Homo sapiens: one gene and its partners. The protein of the gene in region 1 purifies or fractionates together with the protein of each later gene. This does not show direct contact. Each region holds a gene or a part of one and is shown in the gene's direction. Other genes may lie near its edges.

Region 1 (3,651 bases):
TTTAAAATTATGGGCGAGGGTAAAACTGTTACCCGAGCTGCCTATGCAATTATGTTAACCTGCCCCTAGTTATATAGTAAGCTTAGATTTAAAATGGTAGCTAGAAAAAGATAAATCTAGCACAGATCTAATGAAATTATGCAGGAAGACTTAGAAATAAAATGTGTTCTTTGGGTAATCACATTCTGCTTTTCAAGAAATTCCCTAGCAGCCATACTGATTATTTTATTTTATTTTATTTTTGACAAAAATTATAATATTACCAGAAGAGATTTAGCTTAGGGAGTTTAAAGACCTGTCCTTACTAGTTTTTTGACTTTGTTAAAATCTCTGAGCTTTTGTTTCTTTACAGTAAAATGTAATAATGGTAGCTGCTATATTTTCCTCATGAGATTGCTTAAGGTTCAATTGAGATGATATAATTAAAATCATATTGCATTTTGGAAATGTGGCATTATCATTTGCTAATCGCAGCATAATTGCAAGATTGATAAGGTGATGTTTGTCTGTGCAGCGGTTTAAAAATTCTATTGGGGAAGATTTCCACATATTTGAGATTTACTGGATTGGACTGTTCAGCCACTTTCTAGAGAAACCAATTTGTTTTCCAGGTTCCTGATCATAGCCCAGTCTGTAGCCCAATAATTAGTCAGATTGTATTTTCAGTTAGTTGCTTTTTTTTTTTTTTCTTTTTTTGTTGATACAGAGTCTCACTCCATCGCCCAGGCTGGAGTGCAGTGGTGCAATCTCGGCTCACTGCAACCTCTGCCTCCAGGGTTCAAGCGATTCTCCTGCCTCAGCCTCCTGAGTAGCTGGGATTACAGGTGCATGCTACCACGCCCGGCTAATTTTTGTATTTTTATTAGAGACGGGGTTTCACCATGTTGGTCAGGCTGGTGTCAAACTCTTGACCTCATGATCTGCCTGCTTTGGCCTCCCAAAGTGCTGGGATTACAGGTGTGAGCCACTGTGCCCGGCCAGTTAGTTACTTTTCTGTAATGTAAAGTTATTTTTAGTAACTTATTTTTATTTCCTTTTTAAAAATTCTAGATTCAGGAGGAATCAGATATGTGGAAAATAAGAGAACTGGAAAAACAGATGGAAGATGCTTACCGGGGGACCAAAAGGAAAATGCTACCCAGCAGTTCAAGGTGAAGTTGCAGCTCTGAGAACTAAAATAATTCTCATCTTTTTCAGAATCATCAACTTTTGTTTAAAAATACTTTGGTATATTAAGGATAAATTCAGTTCTGTGAGTCCTTAAGCCTTCCTTCTTTCGTAAATCTAGACCCAGGCATAAAGATAATGGCTGTGACGCATATGGCCCTGCTCTTTGTACTTATTTACAATGGAGAGTTAAAAAATTCTACCTGAACAATTATGAATGTGTAGGGTTCTGTGGATTCTAACCTTACCTGATAGCTTTTAACTGAAGATTTTATACTGGAATCTTGTGGTCACTAAGCTGATCAGTCATTCTATTCTCTATTAATCTTTCATTCTTTCAGGCTTTTCTTTTTGTAGCTGGAACTGCAGGTGCATGCCACTATGCCTAGCTACTTTTTTTTTGTAGAGGTGGTGTCTTGCTGTGTTCCCCAGGCTGGTATAGAATCCTGGGCTCACGCAGTCCTCCCACCTCAACCTCCCAGTGTTGGGATTATAAGCATGAGCCACTTGCCTGGCCTCAGACTTTTCTTCACCCTGTCTATTCACCCTCTTCACCAGATCAACAGCCTTTTCACATTACCTTAATAGCTTGAGTGTAAATATGAAGGATTATGCAGGCTTAGTTATCTTCCTTGTGGAGAGGCCTAGGAATGCTTGAATAATTGGGAAGATCCTTACACGCTTGTAAGTGTAAGAGCTACATATATAAGAAATACTTAAACTCTTTAGGAGCAGGGCTTGTGATTTTCTCATTTGCTGCTATATTCCTGCCAGCTAGACCAGTACCTGGTACATAGGAGGCCCTTACAATTTTTTTTTTTTTTTTTTTTTGAGATGGAGTTTCGCTTTTGTTACCCAGGCTGGAGTGCAATGGTGTGGTCTTGGCTCACTGCAACCTCCGCCTCCTGGATTCAGCCAATTCTTCTGCCTCAGCCTCCCAATCAGCTGGGATTACAGGCACCTGCCACCACGCCTGGCTAATTTTTGTATTTTTAGTAGAGACAGGGTTTCACCATGTTGGCCAGGCTGGTCTTGAACTCCTGAGCTCAAAGTGATCCACCCACCTCGGCCTCCCAAAGTGCTGGGATTACAGGCGTGAGCCACTGGACCTGGCCCCTTAAAAATTTTTGATAACCGATTAGCAGCTTACTGGCTAGTTAGTAGAAATGGTAAACAGAAGCTGGATCAGTGGTTCTCAACTTTTTTCCTACTCCAGTATTCCCATGGGTTAGACCTTGTTCCCACTGTTATTGGGACCTCTCTATAGTAAGTTGCTGGTTTGCACAGAGGGAAGTGTATTTCAGAATCTCTAGGGTAGTTTGAAGTGTCCCTTGCTATGATTATGTTCTGCTTCCCTCTTTGCATGCCCTCCTAGTTGAGAATCAGCGAGTGAACTATCACATGACATAGTCCAGAGTTGATTTCATCTCTCTATGCTTTGCAATAGGATGGGTACTAATGGTCAGATTTTTTTCTTTTTTTCTTTTTTTTTTTTCCTGAGACGGAGTCTCACTCTGTTGCCCAGGCTGGAGTACAATGGCATGATCTGGGCTCACTGCAACCTCTGCCTCCCCGGGTTCAGGCAATTTTCCTGCCTCAGCCTTCCAAGTAGCTGGGACTATAGGCGTGTGCCACCACACCTAACTACTTTTTTTGTATTTTTAGCAGAGACAGGGTTTCACCATGTCCCCCAGGCTGGTCTTGAACTCCTGACCCCAAGTGATCCACTCGCCCCGGCCTCCCAAAGTGCTGGGATTACAGGCATGAGCCACTGCACCTGGCCTGGTCAGATTTTTTTCCACTGGACTTTACAAATGTACAGAGGAACAGATAATCAAAGTGCTGGGATTACAGGCATGAGCTACTGCACTAGGCCTGGTCAGATTTCTTCCACTGGACTTCACAAATGTATAGAGAGGAGCAGATAATGTCTTTGCCTTTTTTTTTTTTTTTTTTAAACAGTATCATGTTGTTTCCTTCCCCCTCAGCTTGTTCCATGAGTTTTGTGCATGATGTTCCATAAAGTAAACTCACAGATTGCTTTTACATCTAAAAGTTCTTCTGCTTTCTCTTTTAGCCGGATGCGCAGTGATGGTTTTGATGAAGAAAGTCAAAGATACTATTGGAGGCCAAAGAATGAAATTTCTGGGACACTGGAAGATGATTTTCTTAAGGCTAAATCCTGGAATAAAAAGTTCTATGATTATGAAGCAAACATGCCAGACAGGTTTGTGATTAATTCCTGTGAGCATTAATATTTGGCCTGAGAACGTGTACTTATCAAAATTAATTGTCCCCACAAAAAACTTGTGTACAAAAGTTCATACCAGCATTATTAATAATGGCCCCAAAAAATAATGGCCAAGTAATCCAAATGTCTGTCAACTGATGAATGGGTAAACAAAATGCGATATATCCATACAATGGAATATTATTTGGCAGTAAAAGAAATGAAGTACAGATACATGTTACAACGTGGCCTTG
Region 2 (3,651 bases), on another chromosome or scaffold:
CAGCCCTTTGGTAGGCCGAGGTGGGCAGATCACCTGACGTCAGGAGTTCGAGACCAGCCTGGCCAACCTGGTGAAACTCCGTCTCTACTAAAAATACAAAAAATTAGTTGGCCATGGTGGCGGGTGCCTGTAATCCCAGCTACTCAGGAAGCTAAGGCAGGAGAATTGCTTGAACCCGGGAGGCAGAGGTTGCAGTTGGCCGAGATTGCACCATTGCACTCCAGCCTGGGCAACAAAAGTGAAACTCGTCTAAAAAAAAATAAAATAAAATAACATAAAATTTACCATCTTAACCATTCTTAAGTGTACAGTTCAGTGGGTAATGTTGTGCAACCATCACTGCCGTCCATCTCCATAACTCTTCATCTTGTAAAATGGAAACTCTATCCATTAAACAGTAACTACCTATTTCTCCCTCCCCCATTTCCTGGCAACAACCGTCTTACTGTTTCTATGAATTTGACTACTCCAGGTATCTCATATAAGTGGAATTGTACAGTATTTATCCTTTTGTGGCTGGATTATTTTGCACAGCATAATGTCCTCCAAGTTTATCACTGTTGCATGCATCAGAATTTCCTTCCATTTTAAGGCTACATAATTTTCCATTGTATGTATATACCACATTTTGTTAGCCATTCATCCATCAGTGGATGGGTTGCTTCCATGTTTTAGCTATTGTGAATAATGCTGCTTTGAATATGAGTGTACAAATATCTCCTGAAGACCCTGCTTCACTTCTTTTGGGTATAGACCCAGAAGTGGAATTGCTGGATCATAAGGTAATTCTATGATTAATGTTTTGAGGAACTTTCCATAGTGGCTATACCATTTTACATTCTGACTGCAGTGTACAAGTGTGGCTGTTTCTCCACATCCTTGCCAACACTTCTTTTCTGGTTTTTTTGATAGCAGCTATCCTGACTTGTGTGAGATAGTATCTGATTATCATTTTGAATTTATGCCTTGCCTTTTTAAATAATTTTTTTTAACTCCTGAGAGTAAACAGTTACCCTCAAGGAGTAGATCATGTAATTGGGGTGATGAAACTTGAAAGATTAGAGGAAAAGTTTTCTGTGATGAAATAACATTGCTCAGATAATATTTTTATATAGGTCAAGTGCAGTGAGTTTTAGGGATGCCACCAGGGTAGTGAATTACGTGCCATCATCCAGGCTGAACTTTCTTTTTACTCTGTCCTTCTACATTCTTGGCAACCATTGTTCATTGCAGGTGATGAAATTAATATCTTGGTGGAGCACTTGTTAGTTTGGTAGTAGAGTAAAAGTAACCCCAAATTTGAGAGCTAGGAGCTGTAGATATGTTCCTGCCTGTCTTGAATTTGTCAGTTCAGTTGTTCTTTTTTTCACCACTTTGTCTACTAGATTTCAAGTTAAAAAAAAATTTTTTTATTGGTTTGGACAATAGCTAAACTGATTGAGTTTGAATCTTTTAAACAGATAGTCTCTGAATTGGAATAAATGAACCCCAGACGGAGACTTCTTCTAGCATGCAGAGTGAAACTGTGAGATCGTTGTGGAAATATATGTATTTTCTCCATTTTGTGTAACTGGTGGTGAATGGCTACAGGCTCTGGACAGGAGAGTCAAGGCATCCTTATTTCTGTAAAACTAGGTTTATTTTCCTTAGGATACCAACAATCCTCCCTCATAAATCCTAACTTTTTATCTCTGATTCACATTAAAAGGATCACTTTCAGCTCCTCAGAGCTCATTGGTTTAGTTTCTCGAGCATCTCTCCAGTTCAGAGGAATAAACTGAGGCTGAAGGGATCTACCTGTAGCTTAGTTTTTGATGGTTTGGAGGGAAGTGTCCTGGACTGTGGGTCTGTCACCTTCCTTTTTTATCATTTCTTGGTATTTTGTTTGCATGTGAGGACTCTAGCTGCCTTTGTGACTTGGGACTCCTTTGTGCCACCTTCAGAGTTGCCCTGCTATTCCCAGTCTCTAGTTTGGGAAGTTTAAGTTAGACACCTGGTGGGCAGCAAAATATGCTTCAGTTGCTATGCCAGATACCTTTAGATGTATTGAGAGGGAGGTTCATCTTAACTGGGTTGTCCAGGCCTGACCTGTTGCTGAATAACCGGAGACCAATGCAAGACTTTACATGGGGCAGCGTCATAAAGGCAACTAATGGGTTGTGCCTGTAAGGAGTTAGGAGTACTGTTAGAATTAGAAGAGGGTTTTTGGTGGATATAGGCCTCTGGCTGTGGGTTTTTTTCCTCTCTGTTACCACTCTTATAGATCTATAGCTGCTTTCCAGTATTGGATGACAAATCTAGAATTTTCTTATATCGAAAGGCATTGACTAAACTGGTAGCATTGGCTGAATTTATAAGTATAAGATAGCCAGCTTTGGCCGGGCGCAGTTGCTCATGCCTGTAATCCCAGCACTTTGGGAGGCTGAGGCAGGCGGATCACCTGAGGTCAGGACGAGATCACCCTGGCCAACATGGTGAGACCCCGTCTCTACTAAAAATACAAAAAAATTAGCTGGGCGTGGTGGCACACACCTGTAGTCCCAGTTACTTGGGAGGCTGAGGCAGGAGAATTGTTTGAACCTGGGAGGCGGAGCTTGCAGTGAGCTGAGATTGCGCCACTGTGCTCCAGCCTGGGCCACGGAGTGAGACTCCGTCTCAAAAAAAAAAAAAAAAAAAGCCAGTTTTTATTTTTCTTTTAACTTCTTAACATAATTTTGGACTTAAAAAAAGTTGCAGGAATTCCCATATCTGTTTCACCCAGACTCCTCAAATGTTAACATTTGTTTTATCCTTCTCTTTCTCTCTCATATACACACACATTTGTGTACATATACACACACCTATATAATGACATTTATGTTATGTATTTCTTCCTGACGTGCTTGAGAGTAAATCGTAGTCATCCCTAAATACTTTGGTATGCATTTCCTAAAAATAGTTTCTTACATAACCCTACAATGCCATATTAAAAAATTAGAAGGTAACCATTGATGCATTGCTGTTACCTAATCTACAGCTCTCATTCACATTTGCCAGCTATCCTTATAATGTTCTTTATAGCAAAGGAAAATCCCAGATTACATGATGATATTCAGCTGTAGTCATGTGTTACATTCAGTTGTCACATTTTAAAAGTCTGGATCAGTTTGTTTCATGAATGACATTGACGTGTTTGATCTTACAGGCCGGTTATTTTGTAGTGTGTCCTTCCCTGGCTATTTTTTAATCAGATTGTACAGTGCTTTTTTCCCCCAAAGTTTCGAGCTCCCTCGTTAATGAAAAAGGGACTAAGGAGTAAGGTTTCTAAGTGGAGTCGGGGAACATGCACAGCAGCCACATCTGCTCTCCTGGGAACCCTGGCACAGCGGGCGGAGAGCGGGTGTCATCATGGCAGCTGGCTCACAAGGACGCAGCGAGAGCCCAGCCTGTCAGTTGAGCCCCCTGTTATAGGTGATGCAAGTGCTCTTGTTTCATAGTCCTCTCCTTCTCTGTTTTGTTATGTGTTCAAAGCTGTATCTTAGTGACCAACAAAAGATGAAGGTTTCTCTGGCATGTGTGTATGTTATATTTTCCCCCTCCCCTCCCCTTCCCCACCCCACACACAGGCAAAAAAAGTCTTGCTTTATTATTTATTGGCAAATCCATTGGCCT
Region 3 (3,618 bases), on another chromosome or scaffold:
CCGCTCCCGCTCCACCCGCCGCCGCTCGCGCAGCACCGACCGCCGCCGCGGGGGCAGCCGCAGGTCGCGGTCCCGGGAGAAGCGGCGACGGCGGCGGCGCTCCGCCTCCCCGCCCCCGGCCACTTCCTCATCGTCGTCCTCGAGGCGCGAGCGGCACCGCGGGAAACACCGGGACGGTGGCGGCAGCAAGAAGAAGAAGAAGCGGTCGCGGTCCCGGGGTGAGAAGCGGTCTGGGGATGGCAGCGAGAAGGCCCCGGCGCCCGCCCCGCCGCCCTCTGGCTCCACCTCGTGTGGTGACCGCGACAGCCGCCGCCGGGGGGCCGTGCCACCCTCCATCCAGGACCTCACGGACCACGACCTCTTCGCCATCAAGCGGACCATCACGGTGGGCCGGCTTGACAAGTCCGACCCCCGAGGACCCTCTCCTGCTCCGGCCTCCTCACCTAAGCGGGAGGTCCTGTACGACTCCGAGGGACTGAGCGGCGAGGAGCGGGGCGGCAAGAGCAGCCAGAAGGATCGGCGCCGCTCGGGGGCCGCCTCCTCCTCCTCCTCTTCCCGGGAGAAGGGGTCTCGTCGGAAGGCGCTGGACGGGGGTGACCGGGATCGGGACAGGGACAGAGATAGGGACAGGGACAGGTCATCCAAGAAGGCCCGGCCCCCCAAGGAGTCGGCGCCTTCCTCAGGGCCCCCGCCAAAGCCACCAGTCAGCAGCGGCTCAGGCTCTTCATCCTCGTCGTCCTCCTGTTCTTCCCGGAAGGTGAAGCTGCAGTCCAAGGTGGCGGTGCTGATCCGCGAGGGTGTCAGCAGCACCACCCCGGCCAAGGATGCCGCGTCAGCCGGCCTGGGCTCCATTGGCGTCAAATTCAGCCGTGACCGCGAGAGTCGCTCCCCCTTCCTCAAACCTGACGAGCGGGCCCCCACTGAGATGGCCAAAGCAGCTCCGGGCAGCACCAAGCCCAAAAAGACCAAGGTCAAGGCCAAGGCAGGGGCCAAGAAAACCAAGGGGACCAAGGGAAAGACCAAGCCATCCAAGACCAGGAAAAAGGTCCGCAGTGGAGGTGGCAGCGGGGGCAGTGGTGGCCAGGTGTCGCTGAAGAAGTCCAAGGCGGATAGCTGCAGCCAGGCGGCAGGCACCAAGGGGGCGGAGGAGACTTCCTGGTCCGGGGAGGAGCGGGCAGCCAAGGTTCCTAGCACCCCGCCCCCCAAGGCAGCCCCACCACCCCCTGCCCTCACTCCGGACTCGCAGACCGTGGACAGCAGCTGCAAGACACCTGAGGTCTCCTTCCTGCCCGAGGAGGCCACTGAGGAGGCTGGGGTCCGAGGTGGGGCGGAGGAGGAGGAGGAGGAAGAAGAAGAGGAGGAGGAAGAGGAAGAGGAGGAGGAGCAGCAGCCTGCTACCACCACGGCCACCAGCACTGCTGCAGCCGCCCCAAGCACTGCCCCCAGCGCGGGGTCCACAGCCGGTGACTCGGGGGCGGAGGACGGGCCAGCTTCCCGTGTCTCCCAGCTGCCCACGTTGCCCCCGCCCATGCCCTGGAATCTGCCAGCTGGTGTGGACTGCACCACCAGCGGCGTCCTGGCCTGTGAGTGTCCCCTGGGGGAGGGTGGTGCTGGGGCAGGTGAGACAGGATGGGGACTGGAGGGTACAGACTTAGAGGCAGTGGGGTGCCCTGGCAGGGAGAGGTTTATAGGGACATAGACTGGGAGGGTGGGGGTGAGTAAAGGCCAGCCAGGCTCTAGGTGCCTGGGTGTACTGGGAGAGAGGGGCCGGTGAGAGCAGGTGGTGGCCAGCACAGACTGGAGTGGTGGGCTGGGTTCTGGGATTCCCCTAGACGGGGAGTAGGAGAGAGGGACCAGAAAGAATGGCTTGAGCAGGGCATCGTATTCCTTACGGATGGCGGTTGCCTCTACCAGACTGCAGAGGTGGGGAGAGAGGTTGGGACTGGCCACAGCGGGTCAGGAGGCAGAATCTCACTCCTGCCACTGTCTCATCACTGCATGACCCTGGCCAACCCCGCACCCACACACCTGGAGTCCCAAGAACATTCGTGGTATGGGCTGTTCTCTCATTGGCCAAGGCCCCCTTTTCCCAGTTCTGAGCGTGAGGCTTTGTGGCTGTTCTGGGGCCAAGGGCAGGAGATGACAGCAGGTGTCCAGGTGAGGTTCACCAGCTCCTGTCCTGTCACCTCTCCCATCTTCATGTTGTCACCTCTCTGCCTCCTGCAGTGACTGCACTTCTCTTCAAGATGGAAGAAGCCAACCTGGCGAGCCGAGCGAAGGCCCAGGAGCTGATCCAGGCCACCAACCAGGTGGGCTCCCCTGGGGGAGAGTCCCTGCCGCCCCTTCTTTTGTCCATTGCCTCGGGTTAGGAGAGGAACCGCGGGCCTGGCAGCTCTGGGGCAAGGTATCGGCCTGAAGAGGAGCCTGTTGCCTCAGCTGTGGGGAAGTCAGCGTGGGAACAGTGGGGTGCACGTCCCCTCTTCCCCTCCACCTCCCTTTACTCATCACCCCTCTGTCCTCGTCCCACAGATCCTCAGCCACAGAAAGCCACCCTCAAGTCTGGGGATGACCCCAGCTCCTGTGCCCACCTCTTTGGGTCTGCCCCCTGGCCCCTCCAGCTACCTGCTTCCTGGCAGCCTCCCTCTGGGGGGCTGCGGTTCGACCCCCCCCACCCCCACCGGGCTGGCTGCCACGTCTGACAAGAGAGAGGGCAGCAGCAGCTCTGAGGGCCGTGGGGACACAGATAAGGTGAGCTGGCCTGGGGAGAGGTGGGGCGGTGCTGACAGTTCTGTAGAGAATATGGACAGGAACTGAGACGCGGGGGCCCAAGGAGAAAGGGAGACTGAGGCAGGGAGACAGGGCCGTAGAGACCAAAGTCATGGAACCATAAGGAACTCCACTTTGCTGGAATGGGTGAGCAGGAAATGCGTTAGGCGTGTCCAAAGGAAAATCGCGTCTGTGCGTGTGTGGGGCTGTGTGCGTACACACCACATATACACACCCTGGAAGAGATGCCCCGCGCTGCAGCCCACCCCTTGATTATCTGTTGCTCGCGCTGTCTCCGTCTCTGTGAGTGGGGGAGGGTGGTTTCCGAATGAAAACTCAAGAACCTGTTTGTAGATGAAGCAGGGGAGAATGGGTGCCAGGCAGACAGTAATGTAGGTTCTTACTCAGCTGCTCTGGCCGGCTCCTACTCCTGGGCTCTGGAGCTGTTTCTCTCTTGGTCAGGTCTAGATGTGGGTTTTTGTTTTTGTTTTTCTTTGAGATGGAGTCTTGCTCTGTCACCTGGTCTGGAGTGCAATGGTGCCATCTCGGCTCACTGCAGCCTCCGCCTCCAGGGTTCAAGTGATTCTCCTACCTCAGCCTCCCGAGTAGCTGGGATGACAGGCACCCGCCACCACACCCAGCTAATTTTTGTATTTTTAGTAGAGACGGCATTTCACCACGTTGGCCAGGCTGGTCTTGACTCCTGACCTCAGGTGATCTGCCAGCCTCGGCCTCCCAAAGTGCAGGGATTACAGGTGTGAGCCACCGTGCCCGGCCTTGGTTGGTTGGTTTTTGAGACAGGGTCTCGCTTTGTCACCCAAGCTGGCATGCAGTGGCACAGTCACAGCTCAC

What was found.
Region 2: the proteins of NKAPD1 (region 1) and CSNK2A2 purify together in Homo sapiens (affinity purification with mass spectrometry; 7 studies listed by BioGRID and IntAct, with this or other methods). This does not show direct contact.
Region 3: the proteins of NKAPD1 (region 1) and SCAF1 purify together in Homo sapiens (affinity purification with mass spectrometry; 2 studies listed by BioGRID and IntAct, with this or other methods). This does not show direct contact.

What each region holds. Positions count from the first base shown.
Region 1 is NC_000011.10:112,077,165-112,080,815, forward strand, and holds part of NKAPD1 (uncharacterized protein NKAPD1), read left to right. Parts: intron 1-1,050; coding exon 1,051-1,151; intron 1,152-3,244; coding exon 3,245-3,394; intron 3,395-3,651.
Region 2 is NC_000016.10:58,187,981-58,191,631, reverse strand, and holds part of CSNK2A2 (casein kinase II subunit alpha'), read left to right. Parts: intron 1-3,651.
Region 3 is NC_000019.10:49,652,123-49,655,740, forward strand, and holds part of SCAF1 (splicing factor, arginine/serine-rich 19), read left to right. Parts: coding exon 1-1,583; intron 1,584-2,226; coding exon 2,227-2,309; intron 2,310-2,529; coding exon 2,530-2,748; intron 2,749-3,618.